Linked DNA regions of Homo sapiens: region 2 is linked to region 1. The links come from fine-mapping of genetic effects on gene expression. A gene starts in region 1. The other region holds a variant in brackets. All regions are shown on one strand. Distances are from middle to middle. Region 1 holds the start of SLC25A19 (solute carrier family 25 member 19). Region 2 overlaps ARMC7 (armadillo repeat containing 7).

Region 1 (12,077 bases):
TTTTTAGGTTCTGCCCATTATGGGCCAACTTAACATCTTTATTTTTATTTATTTATTTATTTTTGTTTATTTTTGAGATGGAGTCTTGCTGTGTTGTCCAGGCTGGAGTGGAGTGATCTCGGCTCACTGCAACCTCCTCCTCCCAGGTTCAAGTGATTCTCCTGCCTCAGCCTCCTGAGTAGCTGGGATTACAGGTGCCCACCACCACGCCCAGATAATTTTTGTATTTTTAGTAGAGACGGGGTTTCACCATGTTGGCCAGGCTGGTCTCGAACTCCTCACTTCAAGTGATCCACCTGTCTCGGCCTCGCAAAGTGCTGGGATTACAGGCATGAGTCACTGCACCAAGCCCACCTTAACATCTTTTTTTTTTTTGAGATGGAGTCTCACTCTTGCCACCCAGGCTGGAGTGCAGTAGTGTGATCTCAGCTCACTGCAACCTCCGCCTCCTGGGTTCAAGTGATTCTCCTGCTTCAGCCTCCTGAGTAGCTGGGATAACAGACACCTGCCACCATGCCCAGCTAATTTTTGTACTTTTAGTAGAGACGGGGTTTCACCATGTTGGCCAGGTTGGTCTTGAACTTCTGACCTTAGGTGACCCATTCACCTCGGCCTCCCAAAGTGCTGGTATTACAGGCGTGAGCCATCGTGCCCGGCAACACCTTTAACTATCTTTTTCCTGTGTGGACAATGCTTATCATTACTTGCATTGAGTGAAAAAAGAAAAAAGGTCATCATTTTGTGTACACATGAACTGATTTTCAACAAACATGAACAGAGCAGTTTAGTGGAGAAAGAATAGACTTTTCAACAAAAACAGAGTTCCATGTACTAGAACAATTAAATATCCAAGTACAAGAAAAAAACCTTCAATATCTCATACCAAACAAAAAATAACTAAAAATGGATCAGAGACCTAGATGTAAAACCTAAAACTATAAAATTTCTATTAGAAAACATAGGAGAAAATCTTTATAACCTTTGACTAGGCAAAGATTTCTTTGGTAAAGGCCAGGCATGGTGGCTTACACCTGTAATCCCAGGACTTTGGGAGGCCCAGGAGTTTAAGACCAGCCTGAGCAGCATAGGGAGATCCTATGCTGTCTCTACCAAAAATTAAGGCCAGGCACGGTGGCTCATGCCTGTAATCCTAGCACTTTGGGAGGCTGAAGCAGGCAAATCACTTGAGGTCAGGGGTTTCACAATGTTGGCCAGGCTGGTCTCAAACTCCTGACCTCAAGATGACCAACCCAGCTTGGCCTCCCAAAGTGCTGGTACAGGTGTGGGCCACCGCATCTGGCCAGGAACCAATTCTTTTTTGAGACACGATGGCTGCAAACATCACAAAATGACAGACAAGCAGGCATTATGGTGTTCCTCATGGAAATACACAACACCATGTAAGTAGTCTCATTTAAAAAAAAAAAAAAAAAAAAAAAAAACGTTGGCCGGGCGCCGTGGCTCATGCCTGTAATCCTAGCACTTTGGGAGGCTGAGGCAGGTGGATCACCTGAGGTCAGGAGTTCGAGACCAGCCTGACCAACATGGTGAAATCCCATCTCTACTAAAAATACAAAAATTAGCCGGGCATGGTGGAGGGCATCTGTAATCCCAGCTACTCAGGAGGCTGAGGCAAGAGAATTGCTTGAACCCAGGAGGCAGAGGTTGCAGTGAACCAAGATTGTGCCACTGCACTCCAGCCTGGGCAACAGAGCGAGACTGTCTTTACAAAAAAAAAAATCAGGCCAGGCACAGTGGCTCATGCCTGTAATCCCAGCACTTTGGAAGGGCAAAGTGGGCAGATCACTTGAGGTCAGGAGTTTGAGACAAGCCTGGCCAATGTGGTGAAACGTCATCTCCACTAAAAGTACAAAAATTAGCCAGGTTTGGTGGCATGTGCCTGTAGTACCAGCTACTCAGGAGGCTGAGGCAGGAGAGTCGCTTGAACCCTGGAGGCGGAGGTTGCAGTGAGCCAAGATCACACTACTGTATGACTGTACTCCAGCCTGGACAACACAGCAAGATTCTGTCTAAAAAAAAAAAAAAAAAAAGGCTGGGCGCAGTGGCTCACGTCTGTAATCCCAGCACTTCGGGAGGCCAAGGCGGGCAGATCATGAGGTCAGGAATTTGAGACCAGCCCAACCAACATGGTGAAACAACCCCGTCTCTACTAAAAATACGAAAATTAGCTGGGCGAGGTGGCACATGCCTGTAATCACGACTACTCAGGAGGCTGAAGCAGGAGAATCGCTTGAACTCAGGAGGCGGAGTTTGCAGCGAGCTGCGATTGCGCCACTGCACTCCAGCCTGGAGGACAGAGTGAGACTCTGTCTCAAAAAATAAAGAAATAAATTTTAAAAATCAGGCCAGGTTCAGTGGCTGACACCTGTAATCCTAGCACTTTGGGAGGCTGAAGCAGACAGATTGCCTGAGCTCAGGAGTTCAAGACTGCCATGGGCAACATGGCAAAACCCCGTCTCTACAAAAAATACAAAAAATTAGCTGGGTGTGGTGGCGCGTGCCTGTAGTCCCAGCTACTAGGGGCTGAGGCAGAAGGATAGCTTGACCCCAAGAGGTAGAGGCTGCAGTGAGCTGAGATCGTGTCACTGCACTCTAGCCTGGGAGACAAAGTGAGACCTTATCTAAAAAAAAAAAAAGTCAAACCCAGTCTAATCAAACCTTTTAGATCTAATTACCAATTAGCAGAGAACACAAGGGACATAGGGGCCAGGTGTGGTGGCTCACGCCTGTAATCCCAGCACTTCGGGAGGCCAAAGCAGGCAGATCAGCTGAGGTCAGGAGTTCGAGACCAGCCTGGCCAACATGGTGAAACCTCATCTCTACTAAAAATACAAAAATTAGCTGGACATGATGGCGGGTGCCTGTAATCCCAGCTACTTGGGAGGCTGAGGCTGGAGAATCCCTTGAACCCAGGAGGCACAGGTTGCAGTGAGCCGAGATTGCACCATTGCACCACAGCCTGGACAACTGAGTGAGACTTTGTCTCAAAAACAGCAACAACAACAACAAACAAACAAACAAAAAACACAAGGGACACAGGAAGATGTGGAAACAACTCCATGGGGATGCGATCAGCAAAATCCAGACTAGGGAAAATGCCACAGCATAAACCACTTAATTTCTTTCTTTTAAAAAATGTATTATTTAGTTTTTGTAGAGATGGAGTGTCGCTATGTTTCCCAGGCTGGAGCACAGTGGCTATTCACAGGCACTATTTTTGCACACTACAGCTTTGAACTTCTGGGCTCAAGGGATCCTCCTCCCTCAGTCTCCCTAATATTGGGAATACAGGTGTGCACCCCCAGCCTGGCTCTATCTAGTTTCTTAAAAAAAAACAAATATAATAAAATAGAGAAAGAAAGGAAAATGAAAGGAAATGAAAGAAAACAAATTTCAAGTAAAAAAAAAGTAAAGTGGAGAAAAACAATAGATTTTTAAAAGGACTTCCAGTTGCAATGTTCAGTTCAGATCTCAACTCTTTTTCTTTTCTTTGAGACGGAGTCTCACTCTGTTGCCCAGGCTGGAGTGCAGTGGCACGATCTCGGCTCACTGTAACCTCTCCCTCCCAGGTTCAAGTGATCCTCCTGCCTCAGCCTCCCAAGTAGCTGGAATTACAAGCGCCTACCACCATGCCTGGCTAATTTTTGTATTTTTAGTAGAGACGCGGTTTCACATGTTGGTCAGGCTGGTCTTGAACTCCTGACCTCAAGCAATCCACCCACCTCAGCCTCCCAGTGCTGGGATTACAGGTGTGAGCCACTGCACCCAACCAAGATCTCAATTCAGACAAACATTTTTGTTTGTTTTCTGAGCTCTGTCACTTAGAAAAGCAAACTTGTGGCTGGGTATGGTGGCTGACGCTTGTAATCCCAGCACTTTGGGAGGCCGAGGCGGGCAGATCACGAGGTCAGGAGATCGAGACCACGGTGAAACCCCATCTCTACTAAAAATACAAAAAATTAGCCGGGCGTGGTGGCGGGCGCCTGTAGTCCCAGCTACTTGGAGAGGCTGAGGCAGGAGAATGGCGTGAACCCGGGAGGCGGAGCTTGCAGTGAGCCAAGATCGCGCCACTGCACTCCAGCCTGGGGGACAGAGCTAGACTCCGTCTCAAAAAAAAAAGAAAGAAAAGCAAACAACTTGTTTTAAGAAGGACATTTCAGCCAGGCACGGTGGCTCACACCTGTAATCCCAGAACCTTGGGAGGCCGAGCTGGGTGGATCACTTGAGGTCAGGAGTTCAAAACTAGCCTGGCCAACATGGTGAAACCCCGTTTCTACTAAAACTACAAAAATTAGCTGGGTATGGTGGTGCAGGCCTGTAGTCCCAGCTACTCAGGAGGCTGAAGCAGGAGAATCACCTGAACCCGGGAGGTGGAGGTTGCACCGAGCCGAGATCGTGCCACTGCATTCCAGCCTGGGTGACAGAGTGAGACTCTTGTCTCAAAAAAAAAAAAAAAGTTTGAGACCAGACTGACCAACATGGCAAAACCCCATCTCTACTAAAGATACAAAAAATTAGCTGGGCATAGTGGTGCACGCGTGTAATCCCAGCTACTCGGGAGGCTGAGGCAGGAGAATCGTGTGAACCCCAGAGGCAAAGGTTGCAGTGAGCTGAAATAGCACCATTGCACTCCAGCCTGGGCGACAAGAGCAAAACTGTCTCAAAAAAAAAAAAAAAAAAAAAAAAAAAAAAAAAAAAAAAAAAAGAAGAACATTTCTTTCTTTCAGAAAAGTGTAAACACTAATTCATATTTGATATTAAAAGTTTTTTTGGGGGGTCGGAGTGACAGTTTTGTGTGTGTGTGAAGCATAATGTATACGTATTAAAAAGGGAATGCTTGTCCTTTAAAGACACATACTGAAATATTTACTGGTGAAAACACGTGATGGTATTTACTTCAGAATAACGCTGGGCAGCGCGTGCGAGGTAGGTGCAGAAATAGAGGAAACAAGATTGCCCCATGAGTCGCGTAACTGCTGAGGTCGGAGAGCGACTCTACGCGGCTTCATCGGGTTATTCCACTTCTGTGTATCTTGAAATTTTCTACAATAAAAATGTCTTAAAATTGTGCGTCAAAATGATAACACGAATATAAAAATGCAATTAAAAAGTCAGGAGGCAATACTGTCGCGCAAAACCGTGACGCTAGTTGTGTGCGGGCGGTAGGATGAGTCATTTCCTCCTTCCTTTCTATATTTTCTGTCTATATACTTTTAATATTACTTTTATAATGAGAAATACTAAAACTCGGGGTGAGAGGGGGGGACACTCGTGTTTTTGCCTTCCCCGTCCCCGAGGGGACTGTTCTCATCTATTCTCTTCCCGACGTCCTCCAGCTTTTTGCTAGGCTTCCTGCCATCTTTACCAAGTTGAGATTATCCGGGTTCTGGCATTAACAGAGTTTGAGGAAAGCGGGTCAAGTCTACCGCGCCCTAACCTTGGACCCCGCCTGCAGGCTGACTTTCGAGTCACACGCCAGAGCACGGCGACCCCTAAGGTCGCAGCCCGGCTTCGCAAGGCACCTCCTTCTAACGCGTCGGTCGAACTCGCGCGCCCGCGAGCAGCCGGACTACATCTCCCAGGAAGCTGTGCGCCGTCCAGCTGTCCTGCCCTTGGTCGCGAAGGACTACATTACCCGGTGATATCTTGCGGGAGGCGGTTGCCAGACCTCAAGCGCACAACCATTGGTCCAGCGTCTGGCGGGGAGCTGCACGGTGATTGGCCCAGGAGCCCGCCAGTTTCGTCCGAGCTCAGTAGAGTTTTGCTGTTAAGACTGCGCGAGGAGCTAGAGAGAGCGGAGAGCGCTGAGCCGGGCCGCACCCGCCGAGCCGTGTGAGTAACCTCTACCTCCGTCCTTCTCGCCGCCCTCTCGGGGACCAGCACCCTCGCTCCTCAGGGTGGTCGGGAGGGAGCACACGCACCCGGGCGCTCACGAGAGGGCGGGGACTGTGTACACACGTGTCACACCAGACCAGAGAAGCATCTCCAGGGACACCGGCGGCCGAGCCCCGCGCACGCCCTTGAGCACCTGAGCTCCAGGGCGTCCCCTCGGACTCAAGGAGAAAAAACACACCCCGAGGCACACGTGGACACCTAGGTACCCACACGGGGACCTCTGCAGATTTGCTCAGCTGAGCCCTTGGGCACATGGGCACCCGAACACCAGGAAGAGCCTGGTATGCTCCGGTCTCCTGACAGCGATCCAGGACACCTGCCACTCGGGCTTGCTCCTCCTTTCTGCCCAGATGGGCGGGAAACACGCTGCTCAGTGTGACCTGAGCGGTCCCTGGGTAACCCCTGGAGAGGTTTTGCCTCTCAGTCGCTTGCCGCGTGTTTAAACTTCCTCATGGGCGCCTGGGGAGGAGTTCCAGGGTGGGTGAGAGGAGAAAAGGAATTGATGTCTGGGGTGGAGGCTGCCATCCTGTAGGTAGTATCTCCCCTCCTCCCCCACCCCCACCCCCACTACTACAAGTATTCAAGAACTAGGGTAATTCTGAAGGCTAGTTTTAGGGATTTTTTTTTTTTTTTTTTGCCATAACAAATTCAAACAGTATAGAATTATCGACAGGTCTACCTTCCTTTTTCCCTTCTCAGCCCTTCTCCCTGTGATCAGTTACCAACTACCTGTTGATGTGTGTGGTTACAGACTTCTTTCTATGCTTTGTACAACTCTACAGACCGTATGTAGGTATTACTGTTTTTGTTTTTTGTTTTTACAAAAAAGGAAAAAAGTACATCTCCTGGAAGGGATGCTTTTTAGCTGAGCTCTGGTGGATGAGAGGAGCTAGCCTTGAAAAAGTGAGTAGGGGCTGAGAGTGGGGCTGTATTTCAGACGTAGGGAACTGGAGGAGTAGAGGCAAGGCAATTGATAGGAGTGCTCCCCGAGTTTTCCAGGAACTGGGCAGAAGCAGTCAGACCACTCTGGTTAAATGAGGGAAGGGGAAGAGTGGTCCAGAGTGAGGCTGAAGAGGTCAGTAGGTCTGAGTCAGGGGAGCCCAGGAGCGTCATTTTCTTTTTTGTTTTGTTTTGTTTTTTTGTTTTTGAGACGGAGTCTCACTCTGTAGCCCAGGCTGGAGTGCAATGGCGTGATTTCAGCTCACTGCAACCTCTGCCTCCCAGGCTCACGTGATTCTCCCTCCTCAGCCTCCCAAGTAACTGGGATTACAGGCGCCCACCACGACACCCAGATAATTTTTGTATTTTTATTAGAGACAGGGTTTCACCATGTTGGCCAGACTGGTCTTGAACTCCTGACCTCAGGCGATCCACCCGCCTCGGCCTCCCAAAGTGCTGGGATTACAGGCGTGAGCCACGGTGCCTGGCCAGGAGCATCATTTGCTAGCGTAGCATGGCCCCACTGTGCCGGGGTGGTCTGAGGTGTGTGCAGGAGGGGAAAGGGAAAGGTGAAGGGGCTCAGGGCCTCAGGGCTCTTCCTTTGGACAGTGGGGGATTGTTAAAGAATCCCAATCCCTGTTCTCCAGCCCTGCACGTCCTTCAGTCCCTCAGCGTTACACTTGAGTGGGCTCACTCAGTGAGCAGGAGTTTGCTATAAAGTTGCCAGATGTCTTGGAAAACCAGTTGATCTCTGGGACCAACAATTGCCTATCAAGCCTGTTCATTCGATTCTCAAATATTATTAAGCACTTACCATGATGGGCTCTATTCCAGGAACCGGAAATTTACGAGTGAACAAATGAGACCAAGGTCGTGTTTCCACGGGCTTACATTCTAGTCAGGGAGAGAGACAAGAAACAAATGTACTGTATAAATAACCCATGGCGTGCCGGGCGCTGTGGCTCATGCATGTAATCTCAGCAATTCAGGAGGCTGAGGCAGGAGAATCACTTGAGGCCAGGAGTTCGAGACCAGCCAGGGCAACATTGAGACCTTATCTCTACAAAAATAAAAAACTTAGCCAGGCCTGCACCTGTTAAGTGACAGCTAATTGGGAGGCTGAGGCAAGAGAATCACTTGAGCCCAGGAGTTCAAGGCTATGGTGAGTTATGATGGCACCACTGCATTCCAGCCTGGGCAACAGAGTGAGACCCTGTCTCTAAAAAAGTAAACAAATATGCCATAGTAATAAGTACTGTAAAGAGGAATAAAACAAGTGCTATTTTATTTTATTTTTAAATTTTTGTATTTTTTGTAGAGTTGGGGTTTTGCAGTGTTGCCCAGGCTGGTCTTGAACTCCTGAGCTCAAGCAATCCACCCACCTCGGCCTCCGAAAGTGCTGGGATACAGGCATGAACCGCTGCGCCCAGTCCAAAAGTGAGTGCTATTTTAGACAGTCTAGTCAGGGAGGGCTGCTCTGAGGAGGTGATATTTGAGCAGAGACCATAAGAAACTTGCCTGGTGTTTATTCCGTATCTCTTGCATTTAGCTTGATACTGATGGACATTGTGTGGGCCAGAGGCAGGGATGGTTGGCTATGACCCCAAACCAGATGGCAGGAATAACACCAAGTTCCAGGTGGCAGTGGCTGGGTCTGTGTCTGGACTTGTTACTCGGGCGCTGATCAGTCCCTTCGACGTCATCAAGATCCGTTTCCAGGTACTCTTCCCCTTTTTCCATGCAATGGACTGGAGGACAAGTTCAGTCTTTCTTGCAAAAGCAGTTCCTAAAACTTGGAATTCTATCCAGATGAAGGGCTTGCCTTTTCTGAAAGTTCCCCTTCACATTCCAGCCCACCCCACTGTCCTGACCTTTTTTATTTTGATTCCTAGCTTCAGCATGAGCGCCTGTCTCGCAGTGACCCCAGCGCAAAGTACCATGGCATCCTCCAGGCCTCTAGGCAGATTCTGCAGGAGGAGGGTCCGACAGCTTTCTGGAAAGGACACGTCCCAGCTCAGATTCTCTCCATAGGCTATGGAGCTGTCCAAGTAGGTGGCAAGGGACCTGGCCAGACCTCTGGGGTCACGTTGCTCAGTGGAGGAGCAGAGGGAGGGTGAGGCAAGCAGGAATGCCGCGCAGGGCAGGACGGAAGAGGCAGGCCCCACGCTTCCCACCTGCCTCACCCGGGAGCCTTCCTGACCAGCAGTACCGTAGGCATTGCCCTCCGCCATGTCCCTGCGTCTATCCTGTGTGACTTAGGTGTTGCATCTTGGAGACCGATTTGATGTCATGCCTTCTGTGAGGCTTGGCGAAGGACAGCACTAATGCATTTCAGTTTTTGAAATACCACCTTCACATATGTGGTTCATCTGAACTTCACCACACCGTCATGAGGAGGGCAGGGTAGCTGTCATGTGGATCTCAGGGAGGAGAAGTCAGCTGTCCGAGGCCACACAGCCTGCACATGGCGGGGCTAGGGTTAGAACTCATGCTTCGTTCAGTGGAGCACTAGTATAGTCATAGTGCACAGCATGTGATTTTATGCAGTAGATGTGTTTAAGAACCAGCCCTGTACAGTGCAAACCATGGGCCAGGCCCCTGTTGGAAGCACTTCACATACACTCTGTCACAGCAGTCCTTAAGGTAGGGGCTGTTGTCCCTCCCATGTCATGCATGAGAAGACTGAGGTGGACAGAGCTTACATAATTAACCCAACCAAAGCCACTGGCTAGAAAATGGCAGAGCCACGACCCCCACCTAGGCAGCTAGTGCCAGAGATGTCCCTTCCTACTCTTCCTGTGACATCACAGTGACCGCCCAAGTCAGGTGCTTACTGGCTGGGCATGCCCTGCGATCCTGTCTCTGCACTTGTCTGCAAACAGATATTGCAGCATGACGAATAAATACAGCAACAGGATAGTCTCAAGAAGCCAGGCGTGGGCTGGACTCAGTGGCTCACACCTGTAATCCCAGCATCTGAGCCCGGGAGGCGGAGGCTGCAGTGAGCCACGATCATGCCACTGCACTTCAGCCTGGGCAACACAGCCAGACCCTGTCTCAAAAAAAGAAAAGAAGCCAGGCCATCTTCAGTTGGCTGAAGGAAGATCTGAGCATAGCCCTGGTATAGTGGCTCACACCTGTAATCCCATCACTTTGGGAGGCTGAGGTGGGAGGATGGCTTGAGCTCAGGAGTTTGAGACCAGCCTGGGCAACATTAGGGAGACCTCCTCTCTACTAAAAATAAAAAATAAATTAGCCAGATATGGTGGTACACACCTGTCGTCCCAGCTATTCCAGAGGCAGGAGAATAATTTGAGCTAGAGAAGTCAAGGCTGCTGTGAACTGTGATCGAGCCACTGCACTCCAGCCTGGGCAACTGAGCACGACCTTGCCTCAAAAAGCAAAACAGGGCCAAGCTCGGTGGCTCATGTGTGTAATCTCAGCCCTTTGGGAGCCCAAGGCGGGCAGATTGCTTGAGCTCAGGAGTTTGAGACCAGCCTTGGCAACATAGTGAAACCCTGGTTCTACAAAAAATACCAAAATTAGCTGGACATGGTGGCATGCGCCTGTAATCCCAGCTACTTGAGGAGCTGAGGTGAGAGGATCACTGGAGCCCAGGAGGTTGAGGCTGCAGTGAGCCGTGTTTGTGCCACTGTACTCCAGCCTGGGTGACAGAGAGACACTCTTGTCCCTAAAAAAAAAAAAAAAAAAAAAAAAAGAAAGATCTGAATGTAAGGGGGTCACCCTGTGGAACATGCTCCCAAAAGAATCTGCCCCAGAAAAGAATGATTCTCGAACAGTGCCGCCACCAGGTGCCGCCGCCAGCTGCACTGAAGGGGTCCCTGCAGGAATCAGAGCATGGCCGTCTTCCCCAGTTCTCAGAAAACTAAGTTAGCCAGTGACATTTTCTGATATACATTGTTCTCATGTATCTTTTTTATTTTTTCTTGAGACAGAGTCTCACTCTGTTGCCCAGGCTGGAGTGCAGTGGCGCAATCTCAGCTCACTGCAACCTCCGCCTCCTGGGTTCAGGCGATTCTTCTGCCTCAGCCTCCCAAGTAGCTGGGGTTACAGGCCCACGCCACCATGCCTGGCTAATTTTTGTATTTTTAGTAGAGACAGGGTTCCACCATATTGGCCAGGCTGGTCTCCAACTCCTGACCTCATGATCTGCCCACCTCGGCCTTCCAAAGTGCTGGGATTACAGGCGTGGGCCACTGCACCCAGTCTTTTTTTTGAGACCGAGTCTTGCTCTGTCGCCCGGGCTGGAGAGCGCAGTGGCATGATCTTGGCTCAGTGCAGCTCTGCCTCCCGGGTTCAAGTGATTCTCCTGCCTCAGCCCCCCAAGTACCTGGGACTACAGGTGCCCGCCACCATGCCTGACTAATTTTTGTATTTTTAGTAAAGACAGGGTTTCACTATGTTGACCCGGCTGGTCTCGAACTTGTGACCTCGTGATCTGCCCGCCTCGGCCCCCCAGAGTGCTGGGATTACAAGTGTGAGCCACTGCACCTGGCCCCCATATATCTTCTTAACCCTTTGAGTGTCTGACTCTACTCAAGTATCAAATGGCATCCGAGTTTTGCGTAGAATGTTGTATTTATCATATGCTGTCACTGCTCAAGAAGAACATTTCCTGACCTTTTCCTCGCCCCTCCACCTGGGCCCCAGCCGGGTCACGGGTGATGTATTTGGGGAGTATTTGGTCCTCACCCTCATCCTTTGGGCTGTCGGTGACTTCTTCACTTACTCTTGCAGTTCTTGTCATTTGAAATGCTGACGGAGCTGGTCCACAGAGGCAGCGTGTATGACGCCCGGGAATTCTCAGTGCACTTTGTATGTGGTGGCCTGGCTGCCTGTATGGCCACCCTCACTGTGCACCCCGTGGATGTTCTGCGCACCCGCTTTGCAGCTCAGGGTGAGCCCAAGGTGAGTGGCCAGGAGCCAGACCGGGGAAGCCCAAATAAGGAAGGTGTTGTCACAGGGGTAGCATTCTTTATTTTTTATTTATTTATTTATTTATTTTTGTTTTGTTCTGTTTTGTTTTGTTTGAGACAGAATCTCGCTCTGTCATGCAGGCTGGAGTGCAGTGGTGCGATCTTGGCTTACTGCAAGCTCCACCTCCCGAGTTCAAGCGATTCTCCTGCCTCAGCCTCCCGAGTAGCTGGGATTACAGGCACCCGCCACCACGCCTGGCTAATTTTTTTTGTATTTTTAGTAGA
Region 2 (12,077 bases), 170 kb after region 1:
GAGAATGGGGACTCTGCCTTGTCTCATTCTCTATCAGCAGCCTCGCATTAGCAGGTGTTTAATAAATAGGAAAACGTTATCTCTACAGATATTCTTTTAAAAATTAAAAAAGCCAGGGCCAGGCACAGTGGCTCACTCCTGTAATCCCAGCACTTTGGGTGGTGAGGCAGGAGGATCACCTGAGGTCAGGAGTTCAAGACTAGCCTTGCCAACATGGTGAAACCCCATCTCTACTAAAAATACAAAAAATTAGCTGGGCGTGGTGGCACACGCCCGTAGTCCCAGCTACTCGAGAAGCTGAGGCAGGAGAATCGCTTGAACCCAGGAGGCGGAGGTTGCGGTGAGCCGAGATCACTCCACTGCACTCCAGCCTGGGCAACAAGAGTGAAACCCCGTCAAAAATAATAATAATAATAATTTTAAAAGATATTATTCTTTTTTGTTTTTGTTTTGAGACGGAGTTTTGCTCTGTCGCCCAGGCTGGAGTGCAGTGGCGCAATCTCGGCTCACTGCATCCTCCACCTCCGGGGTTCTCTGCCTCAGCCTCCCGAGTAGCTGGGATTACAGGCGCCCGTCAACATGCCCGACTAATTTCCTTTTGTATTTTTAGTAGAGATGGGGTTTCACCATCTTGGCCTGGCTTATCTTGAACTCCTGACCCTGTGATCCACCTGCCTCGCCCTCCCAAAGTGCTGGGATTATAGGCGTGAGCCACCACACCTGGCCAGATGTTATTCTTTTTTAAAAGCTGAATTTCACTGAGATAGGAGAATAACTCATCAAACGACACCATTAACACAGTAAAAAGGCAAAAGGAGAAAACATTCACTGACTATCCATCTGACAGAACGCTGGTATCCAGAACACATCAAGAACTCCTGCATATCAATAAAAGATGAACAACCCAATTTTGAAAATGAGCAAAAAGACTTAAACAAAGTCTTCTTTGCAAAAGGGCCAAAACATATGGAACTGTGCTCATTACGTATCAGAGAAATAAAAAGTATAACCACAAGAACATGCCACTACACACTCAACATAATAGCAAAAATAAAAAACACTGCTGCTGCGTGCAGTGGCTCACACCTGTAATCCCAGCACTTTGGGAGGCCGAGGAGGGTGGATCACTTGAGGTCAGGAGTTCCAGACCAGCCTGGCCAACATGGCGAAAACCTGTCTCTACTAAAAATACAAAAATTAGCTAGGCATGGTGGCCTACACATGCAACCTCAGCTACTCCGGAGGCTGAGGTGGGAGAATTGCTTGAACCCAGGAGGCGGAGGTTGCAGCAAGACGAGATTGTGCCAACTGTGCTCCAGCGTAGGCGACAGAGCGAGACTCCATCTCAAAAACAAACAAAAAAAGGCCAATACTAAGTGTTGGCAAGGAAGTGGAGCATATAGCATAACCTGGTGTAACTACGTGGAAAGTGATTTGGCAGCTTCTCATGACGTTAAACGCACATCTACCCTAGGACTGAGCAACTCCACTCCTAGGTGAGAGAAATGAGTACATATTTGTATGAACATGATCCTAACAGCTTCATTCATAAAGCTTCTAAACTAGAAACAATTCAAATCTCCGTCTACAGGCAGATGCATGAACAAATTGTGGCACATCCAAAGGAATGGATGATACTGCAATAATTTGGATGAATCTGAAAAACATAATGTTGAGTGAAAGAAATCAGATACGAGAGTAGATCCTGCATGGTTCTGTTTGTATGAAGTTCAAGAACAGGCAAAGCAAATCCACAGGATAGAGGTTAGAATAGTGGTTGCCTTGGAGTGGGAGATACTGACCCAGCGTGGGTGTGAAGGGAGTTTCTACGTCTTGGTTTAGGAGCTGCTTACATGGATGTACACATAGCTCAATGAATTTCAAAATTCACCAAACTGACACTTAAGATATGTGCATTTTATTCTGTTGATCATACTGCAATCTTTTTTTTTTTTTTTTTTTTTGAGACCGAGTCTTGCTCTGTCGCCCAGGCTGGAGTGCAGTGGTGCGATCTCAGCTCACTGCAATCTCCGCCTCCCAGGTTCAAGTGATTCTCCTGCCTCAGCCTCCTGAGTAGCTGGGACTACAGGTGCCCGCCACCATGCCCAGCTAATTTTTTGTATTTTTAGTAGAGATGGGGTTTCACCGTATTAGCCAGGATGGTCTTGATCTCCTGACCTCGTGATCCGCCCGCCTCGGCCTCCCAAAGTGCTGGGATTACAGGCCTGAGCCACCGTGCCCAGCCACCATACTGCAGTCTTAAAAATCGTTATAAAACAGAAAGGAGAACAAGTTCCGACTTCCTGATGAACATGCTCTGCACAAGACAGAGAGAAAACAAGAAGCAAGGGCAGGGCCTTCCAGACATCAGGACACACAGGAACTCTACACGAGAACCCTGGAGAGGCAAAAGAGGAAACCCCACATGAAAGCAAGATGAGAAAGCCGGAGACTCAGGGAGGTCAGGTGGGTGACCTCAGCTCACACGCCATGTTGGGCACTGGTGCAGGGAGGGACAACCTGGACCATGAAGGGAAGGTTGAAGGATGGTCCCAGGGATTAAATGAGGTGATGCTGGCCGGGCGTGGGGGCTCATGCCTGTAATCCCAGCACTTTGGGAGGCCGAGGGTGGATCACCTGAGGTCAGGAGTTCAAGACCACCCTGGCCAACATGGCAAAACTCCATCTCTACTAAAAATACAAAAATTAGCTGGGCATGGTGGCACTCACCTGTAGTCCCAGCTACTTGGGAGGCTGAGGCAGGAGAATGGCTTGAACTTGGGAGGCGGAGGTTGCAATGAGCCCAGATCATGCCACTGCACTCCAGCCTGGTCAACAGGGCGAGACTCCATCTCAAAAACAAAACAAAACGAGGTGATGCTTCTGACAAGTGCTTAGCTGGCACCTGGCACCTGGTGGCTGGGCAGGCCCTCGGCAAGGGCAGCTCAAAATACAGCTACATCTGGGGACTCGCCCATGCTGAGCTGAAGCAGCCCAGGGTCAAAGTCTTCACAGCAGGCTGGGCGTGGTGGCTCACGCCTGTAATCCTAGCACTTTGAGAGGGCCGAGGCAGGCGGATCACAAGGTCAGGAAATCGAGACCATCCTGGCTAACACGGTGAAACCCTGTCTCTACTAAAAAAAAAAAAAAATACAAAAAAAATTAGCTGGGCGTGGTAGCGGGTGCCTGTAGTCCCAGCTGCTGGGAAGGCTGAGGCAGGAGAATGGCGTGAACCCGGGAGGCGGAGCTTGCAGTGAGTCGAGATCGCGCCACTGCACTCCAGCCTGGGCGACAGAGCGAAACTCCGTCTCAAAAAAAAAAAAAGAAAAAACTGTATCACAGGGTATTTTCAGAAGTCTCACCACCATTCTGGTCCCTTCTACCTTGTTCCCTGCCTCGTACTAACCCATTTCCTTATTACACTTTTGTGTCTTGCCAGCGTGAGTGCATACACAGAGGTGTGTTCATCTCCACCCTGCCTTCTCACACAAAGGGTAGCTTACTCTATGTACTGTCTGTCCTTCAGACTTGAAATTGAAGGAGCCATTTTCAAGACACTGAAGGAAAACCCAAGAACAAATAATCCCCTGTGAATAGTCCAGTGTACCAGTCCAGTGTACCAGTGTACCAGTGTACAGTCCAGTGTACCAGTGTCATAGAGGAACTGCCACTGGGGCTGGGTGCAGTGGCTCATGCCTGTAATCCTAGCACTTTGGGAGGCTGGGGTCGGAGGATCACTTGAGCCCAGGAGTTTGAGGCCAGAACAAGGGACTAGAGTCTGAGCCTGGTGCCAGCTGGGTTCCCAGGGCACAGAATTTGGATCCTGGATGACAGGGGCGAAGTCCTGGCTCCAGTTATCACTAACAGCGGGAGCCCCAGGCAGTGGACTTGCCCTCACTTGGTGGTGGGGGTTCCCGATATGTACAAAGGGGTTAGAACCATCGGCCTTGCCGTTCATGACCGATTCAGAGGCCTTGTGGACAGGCTGGTTCAGGTGGGCGTGTGGCGAGCACATGGTGTGCACTGGGCGGGCATCCAGGAGAGGCAGCTTTTATCCCAACAGCACCCAAACAGGAGCCCTGGACCCTGGGCAGAAAAGGCAGCCAGAAGCACAGAAAGGGTCAATAAACTAGTTCTACAATTGCTCTAAATGGGCAGATCCACAAGAGGCCACAAAAGAGGCCAGAGACTTGAAAACCCGTGCGTGTTCTCCGCGGTCGCTGTAGCCGGATCCTTCCTCATGGCTGTGGCGGTGCCGACGGCGGGCAACTGAGAGGAAGCCACAGGAGAAAGAGACCGCCACACAGAGACGACGGTGAGTGAGGCCAGGCCCCTGTTGGCAAGTGGTTGCTGCCACTGTAGTTCCACTGCCACCGCTGATGGGAACACTTGAGGCCAGACTGAAGCCCTGGCTGACATGGAGAGAGAGCAGGGGCTTCTCTAGGGGCCTGCAGGCCCCCAAGCATGGAAATAAAGGAAAATCTTGAGTCCCTTCATGAAATTCCAGGCACCTAGCTAGCCCTGAGAAGCAAGTGAGCAACTCGATAAGCAAGAAGGTAATAGTTAGCTTAAAACAATAGCCAAGGAAGTCAGAATCAGGGGATGTCTGGTTTCCCCATAGAAACTAAAGATAACTTTGTTTTTTTTTTTTTTTTGAGACAGTCTTGCTTTGTCGCCCATGCTGGAGTGCAGTGGCACGATCTTGGCTCACTGTAACCTCTGCCTGCCTCCTGGGTTCAAGCGATTCTCCTGCCTCAGCTTCCAGAGTAGCTGGGATTACAGGCTCCTGCCACCACACCCAGCTAGATTTTGTATTTTTAGTAGAGACGGGGTTTCACCATGTTGGCCAGGCTGGTCTTGAACTCCTGAGCTCAAGTGATCCACCCGCCTCAGCCTCCCAAAGTGCTGGGATTACAGGTGTGAGCCACCACACCCGGCCTAAAGATAACATCTTAATATCTGTCCTTGAGTTGCTTTTCAGAAATCTGGACCCTCAACAAACAATTCCCCTGGCACTGAGACCTCAGATAAGGGGAACTGAAAACTACACTCTGACCACTCTTTAGACTCCCTGAGGGGCCTGGAGGACATGCCCACAGGTTATAGCTAACATTCTTTTTTGCTGATGCCAAATTTGTAGACAAAGCTTCACCTCCTTAACCACTCACAAATCAGAAAATCTTTGAAGCCACCTATGATCTGTGCCCCATCCCTTGGAGACATCCTGCCTTCTTAGGCCAAACCAATATATAGCCTCCTGGTGTTGATTTAAAACTTTGTCTGTAACCTCTGCCTCCTGCCTTTGAACACCCTTAACCATAAGCCATCTGGGAATTTGGGTCTTAAGCATGAGCTGCCGGATTCTTCTTGCTTGTCGCCCCACAATAAAGGCCTCACTTTTGGCTGGGCACAGTGGCTCACGCCTGTAATCCCAGCACTTTGGGAGGCCGAGGCGGGCGGATCACCTGAGGTGAGGAGTTCGAGATCAGCCTGGCCAACATGTCGAAACCCCGTCTCTACTAAACATACAAAAATTAGCTGGGTGTGGTGGCGGGTGCTTGTAATCCCAGCTACTCAGGAGGCTGAGGCAGGAGAATTGCTTGAACCAGGTAGGCGGAGGTTGCAGTGAGACGAGATTGCACCATTGCACTCCAACCTGGGCAACGGAGTGAGAATCTGTCTCAAAAAAACCAAAACCAAAAACAAAAACAAAGCCTCACTTTCTCACTGCGATTTTTGTCAGTAATTGGCCTTAGTGTGCAGGGTGAGCGAATCCATTTGTTTGGATAGCATCCAGCTTCCAGCCCTCAGAGAGGAGGCAGAAGTGCTGGGCCAAAGAGCAGACCTCACTCAGAGCTGCCACAGCAAAGCCAGCATGGAAGGGTACCTGTGAGTGTGGTGGCTGCAGGGACAGACGGAAGGAAGCCTGCATTCTCATCCTGGCCTGCGACAGCCAGACGAGGGGCAGCTGTCTGCACCGCAGCTTCCTTATTGATAAAATGAGCAATTTGGAGTAAACTCCTTTCTCGCTTTCGCTCCACAATCCTAGGAATTGGAACTCCTCTAAGGGCAGGAAAAGGGCCAAGGGACTAGCTTGTAGACTCTGACTGCTCTGGGTTTAAGTCTCAGGTCTGGTACTCTTTATTTATTTTGAGACGGAGTTTCACTCTTGTTGCCCAGGCTGGAGTGCAATGGCGTGATCTTGGCTCACCTCAACCTCCACCTCCTCGGTTCAAGCGATTCTCCTGCCTCAGCCTCCTGAGTAGCTGGGATTACAGGCGCGTGCCACCGCACCCAGCTAATTGTATTTTTAGTAGAGATGGGGTTTCTCCATGTTGGTCAGGCTGGTCTCGAACTCCCGACCTCCGGTGATCTGCCCACTTCGGCCTCCCAAAGTGCTGGGATTACAAGCGTCAGCCACCATGCCCGGCCTAGGTCTGGTACTCTTTAAACCTTTGGCCAGCCCACAGAACCTCTCTAAGCCTCAGAGTCCTGATTGGAAAGAAGGCGGTGTAAGCACATCTACTTTAGTACTATGTCCAATGCACAAGATGCAAGCGCCTGGCATGCAGTGGGTGCTCCCCAAGTGTGAGCTAATGCCATCCGTGATGGGGGCACAACAGCACCGGGCCTGCAGCCAGGCTCTCCCCACCTGACATTGCCTGGGCACCCTCTGGGAGGCTGAGGATCGGTGTTCCTGTCATTCCGTGATGTTTTTCCAGAAGGTAAGAATTCCTGGAGCAGATGAGTGATTCCCTTGATAGGACGTTATCCCATCCCGCACCTCACCTCTCTGGGACAAGGGGCGACAGCTCACCCTCAAAGGGTTTTGGGTATTTGTCTTTGGATGGCAACCAAGGGAATCCTATCTATGGCTGCAGACACTAACCCTAAAAGAGCACTGTGGTGTTTCATTTAATTCTCTCAACTGATGTGAAGCAGCTACTGGCACTGTCCCCATCTGACAGATGATTGGAGGAGAGAGAGCCCACACCCAGATGCCTGCCTGACCCCAGGGCCCAGCTCTCATCCAACTCACTGTGCTGCCTGCCAACAAGCAGATACTTGTTTTGTTTGTTTTTGTAGGGACAGGGTTTTGCTATGTTGCCCAGGCTGCTCTTGACCTCCTGGGGGCTCAAGCAATCCTCTTGCTTCAGCCTCCCAGAATGCTGGGATTACAGGTATGAACCACCCTGCTCAACCAAGCAGACAATGGTTTTGGTTCCTTTTTTTTTTTATGGAGACAGAGTCTTGCTCTGTCACCCAGGCTGGAGTGCAGTGGCGTGATCTTGGCTCACTGCAACCTCTGTCTCCTGGTTCAAGCAACTCTTCTGCCTCAGCCTCCGAGTAGCTGGGACTACAGGTGTGCGCCACCACACCCAACTAATTTTTGTATTTTTAGTAGAGACGGGGTTTTGCCATGTTGGCCAGGCTGGTCTCGAACTCCTGACCTCAAGTGATCC[A/T]CCCCCCTCGGCCTCCCAAATGGGATTACAGGTGTGAGCCACCATACCCAGCTTGGTTTTGGTTCTGCGAGCCACAGCCATGGGCAATCTGACTCAGCTCTCCACTGTGCCAGTCCTTCCAGAACCAACCCTGCTCAGGGGTGTTGCACCAAGTCATGGCCAGGACTCCACACCTATTAAGTGAAGATCTCCTGCCTTTTCTTCCCCTTCTTTCCTCCTCCCTAGGCCAAAAGGCCTAAGCACTCAAACCATGCAGACAGAAGTAAGGCTGGCTCTGGCTCAGGGAGATCACAATCTCAGGGCTGCCACATCGGATAAAAGACTCAAAGCTCCAAAGCGCAGCACAGAGCCTTCTCCAGAAACAGCAGAATAAGTGCCTGTCGGGGATCCCCAAGCAGAGACACTAAGAGAAAGGGAAACGACGGCAGTAAGAAAATACGCGGGGGCTCTCCTTCTCAGTCATGCATAATAAACACAAGAGAAATTTCGAGAAATTTCATTTGCATGTTGAAATTTCATTGCAACATGGTCCCACGGAGGGATTCGACGCTGAGAAAGCTACTGTGCTTGGGGCGGGGGGGTCTTGCTGTGGCAGAAGAAGGAAGAGAAAAAAAGGAGGAAAAAAATGGTTGGGAAAAGTAAAGCTGGTGATAATGATCCTAACAATTCTAAAATACCTGCACAGAGACACAGATGCACAGACACACTTCTGCTCCCACAACTGCTTGCGACGCAGGCAAGGCGGGAGAGGAAACCACGCTCGGAGAAGGGACGGGACTCAGCTTCTAGGAATCAGCTGAGAAGTGGAGACGCTGGGACCGCGGACTCCAGGACCCGGGCTCAGTCACCCACGCCGGGAAGCTGCCCAGGATGGCAAGAACCCAGCCCAGGCCCACGCCGCCCCCATAGCTCAGTGGACCCGGACCTCAGGGTGCCCCTGTCCTGGGAAAGTTGCTTCCTGACCCTGAGGAAACGCCAGCAGGAAAGACTCCACTTGGTAAACACTTTTGGTGGGGACTGCTCTGTGACTTCCGCCAATTTTTCTCCAGGGGCAGCAGCTTGATTTGGAGGAGCTCTATCGCCCCCTGGTGGAGATTTAGCCACATGCTTCTGCAGGGGCCACCGTCACCGTTCAGACTGCAGCAGCTGTGGGGGCAGAGGCACGAAAAGGGACGGGACGGAGGACGTTTTAGAGACCAACTTTTTAGAATATTTGTTTGGCATAATAATCTTCTAGAGGAGCTGGCATCACTCGGGGACCTGGGCAACTGGGGCTCCTGCCCTGGCTTGGCTTTAGCAGGCCCCACTCTGGTCCTCTGTGGGGCAGTAAGTCCAGGGAGCTCACCCAAAGCCCACAGCCGTCCTTCCCCTGCACCTGGAGCTCCAGGCCCTAAACCTGCTCCCACGGCTGCATGGGCCTCTCTCTTGGATCCTGACTCCCAGGAGTGAATGCCACTGTTGGTGTGTGCACTTCCAAACCCAGGGAGTGGCCAAGGGGCAGCTGTCTGTGGGGGTGTGAATCCGCACACACATGTGCTGGAGCCCCCTCATGGAGAGAAGACCCTCATTTGTAGTCTGGCCCCAGGAATCTCCTCTCCTCTTTAGAGGAGACCTGGATGGTCTTTGAAAAATTTGAATCACACTTATCATAATGTATTTTTGCCGGGCGCGGTGGCTCACGCCTGTAATCCCAGCACTTTGGGAGGCCGAGGCGGGCAGATCACGAGGTCAGGAGATTGAGCCCATCCTGGCTAACACGGTGAAACCCCGTCTCTACTAAAAGTACAAAAAATTAGCCGGGCCTGGTGGGGGGGCGCCTGTAATCCCAGCTACTTGGGAGGCTGAGGCAGGAGAATGGCGTGAACCCGGGAGGCGGAGCTTGCAGTGAGCCGAGATCGCGCCACTGCACTCCAGCCTGGGCGACAGAGCAAGACTCCATCTCAAAAAAAAAAATAAATAAATAAAAAGTATTTTTAAAAATGTGTTAGTTGGGCCAGGTGTGGTGGCTCACGACTGTAACCCCAGCACTTTGGGAGGCTGAGGCGGGCGGATCACCTGAGGTCAGGAGTTTGAGACCAGCCTGGCCAACACGGTGAAACCCCGTCTCTACTAAAAACACAAAAATTAGCCGGGCGTGGTGGCGGGCGCCTATAATCCCATACCCGGGAGGCTGAAGCAGGAGAACTGTCTGAACCCAGGAGGCAGAGGTTGCAGTGAGCTGAGATTGCACCACCGCATTCCAGCCTGGGCGACAGAGCAAGACTCCATCTCAAAAAATAAAATAAAATAAAATAAAATAAAATAAAAAATGTGTTATTTGATCCTATCAAGACATTCAACCCAATTTCTGGATTATAGGAAATAAAGGGGATAAAGAAACCACAAAGAGGCAATGAGACAAACCGGAAGGGGGAACATTTGCATTCCTGGTTGGGGCCTTCGAGAATCAGTGTTATGAAATGAGGGTCTGTTTAGGGTTACAAGGGATTTATTTCTTGGGGCCAGGAGTTCGAGACCAGTCTGGGCAACACAGTGAGATCCTGTCACAACAAAAAATTAAAAAAAAAAAAAATTAGCTGGGCATGGTGGTGCACACCTGTAGTCACAGCTACTCGGGAGGCTAAGGCAGGAAGACTGCTTGAGCCCAGGAGTTCAAGTTTATGGTGAGCTATGATCACACCACTGCACTCCAGCCTAAGTGACAGAGTGAGACCCTATCTCAAAAAAAAAAAAAAAAAAAAGAAAAAGAGAATAAAAAGAGAGATTTAAGATAATTTATGTAGTGACTTCCTTCCAATGGGTATCATACGTAAAGAGGGGAAAGAAAGAGTAATTTTACAGTGGAGAAGCCTGACAAGACTTCAGCCAGGTGACTACGCGCGTGTTGGCCAGGCTGCAGTGCAGTGGCTATTCACAGGTGCAATCGTGCAATCACAGCACACGACAGCCTCAAATTCCTGGGCTCAAGCGATCCTCTTGAGTATCTGGGACTACAGGTGGGCACTGCATTGCTTGAAAAAGGAATTTTTGTTTGTTCTCAAAATTTTGTTTGCTTCAAACTATTTCCCACGGCCTAGATCTAAACTCCTGCAAGCTCTGGTGCCACTGAACTCTCTAAACTCTTTTTGTGCCATTCTCCACTTCACTGCAACGATCCTCCCACATCAGCCTTCCGTCTGGCTCCTTCCTGTTTTAAGGCCTTTGCCCATGCTGTGTCCCGGCTAAAATGCCTTTCTCATGATGGCCAAAACTGAAGTAACCCCCACCTTCCACTGCTGTCTCTCATCACCCCATTTACTTCCTTCTGAGCATCATCTTTTTTGTTTGCTAACCACCTGTCCCCCCTACTAGAATGTAAGCTCCTGAGGGGCAAAGACCTTTCCCTAAGCTGTTCACCATACTCCAGCATTTAGAGCAGTAGCTTGCATATACGGTACACGCGCAATAAATATCTACCCAGTGAATAACTCAATAGGTCTTAAGATCATAACAACTACAGAAGCCATAAGTTACAGACTGCAAGCCATCTCTGCTTCTCTTGATATGAAAACACTAAATATGAGTTATTTTTGTTTTTGAGACAGATTCTCGTTTTGTCACCCAGGCTGGAGTACAGTGGCCCAATCCCAGCTCACTGCAGCCTTGACCTCCCAGGCTTAAGCAATCCTCCCACCTCAGCCTCCTGAGTAGCTGGGACACCACGCCAGACTAATTTTTTTTTTTTTTTTTTTAAAGCAGAGATGGGGTTTTGTCATGTTGCCCAGGCTGGTCTTGAACTCCGGAACTCAAGTGATCTCCCTGCTTCGGCCTCACAAAGTGCTGAGATTAAAGGTGTGAGCCACCTCACCCGCCTGAAATTGCTTTTTTTTTTGAGACAGAGTCTCACTGTTGCCCAGGCTGGGGTGCGGTGGTGCCATCTTGGCTCACTACAACCTCTGCCTACCGGGTTCAAGCGATTCTCCTGCCTCAGCCTCCCAAGTAGCTGGGATTACAGGCGCCCACCACCATGCCCGGCTAATTTTTGTATTTTTAGTTAGAGATGGGGTTTCACCATGTTGGCCAGGCTGATCTTGAACTCCTGACCTCAGGTGATCCGCCCACCTCAGCCTCCCAAAGTGCTGGTGCTGGTATTACAGGTGTGTGCCACCGCGCCCGGCTACAAAACTGCTCTTTTTAAAACATATTTTTTTGAGACATGGTCTCACTCTGTCGCCCAGGCTGGAGTGCAGTAGCACAATCTCAGCTCACTTCGGCCTCTGCCTCCCAGACTCAAGCAATACCTCCTGCTTCAGTCTCCAGAGTAGCTGGGCCTACAGGTGCACACCACTGTGTGCGGCTTTTTTTTTTTTTTTTTTTTTTTTGAGACGGGGTCTCACTCTTGTCCCCGAGGCTGTGGTGCAGTGGCACGATCTCAGCTCACTGCAACATTTGCCTCCTGGGTTCAAGCTTCTCCTGCCTCAGGCTCACTAGTAGCTGGGATTACAGGCACTCTCCACCACGTCTAGCTAATTTTTGTACGAGACGGGGTTTCGCCATGTGGGCCAGGCTGGTCTCGAACTCATGACCTCAGGTGATCCGCCCGCCTTAGCTTCCCAAACTGCTGGGATTACAGGT

Evidence for each region. PIP is the estimated chance that this variant, and not a neighbour inherited with it, causes the effect.
Region 2: its variant is fine-mapped to the expression of SLC25A19 in whole blood (TOPMed, PIP above 0.99).

Annotation. Positions count from the first base shown.
Region 1 is chr17:75,283,130-75,295,206 of GRCh38, reverse strand. It overlaps SLC25A19 (solute carrier family 25 member 19), which reads left to right and starts at 5,774. Exons shown (of 8, transcript NM_001126121.2): 1 at 5,774-5,853; 2 at 6,616-6,705; 3 at 8,405-8,574; 4 at 8,748-8,903; 5 at 11,614-11,784. The coding sequence starts at 8,443. RefSeq lists a silencer at 481-670 and enhancers at 5,266-5,315, 5,356-5,405, 5,496-5,695, 6,128-6,629.
Region 2 is chr17:75,110,701-75,122,777 of GRCh38, reverse strand. The region is part of intron 2 of ARMC7 (armadillo repeat containing 7); the gene reads right to left. Among named protein-coding and RNA genes, the nearest start is that of ARMC7, 6.8 kb to the right of the region's middle. RefSeq lists enhancers at 7,708-7,757, 7,798-7,857, 8,299-8,838. The variant A/T (reference allele first, on the strand shown) is at 7,464.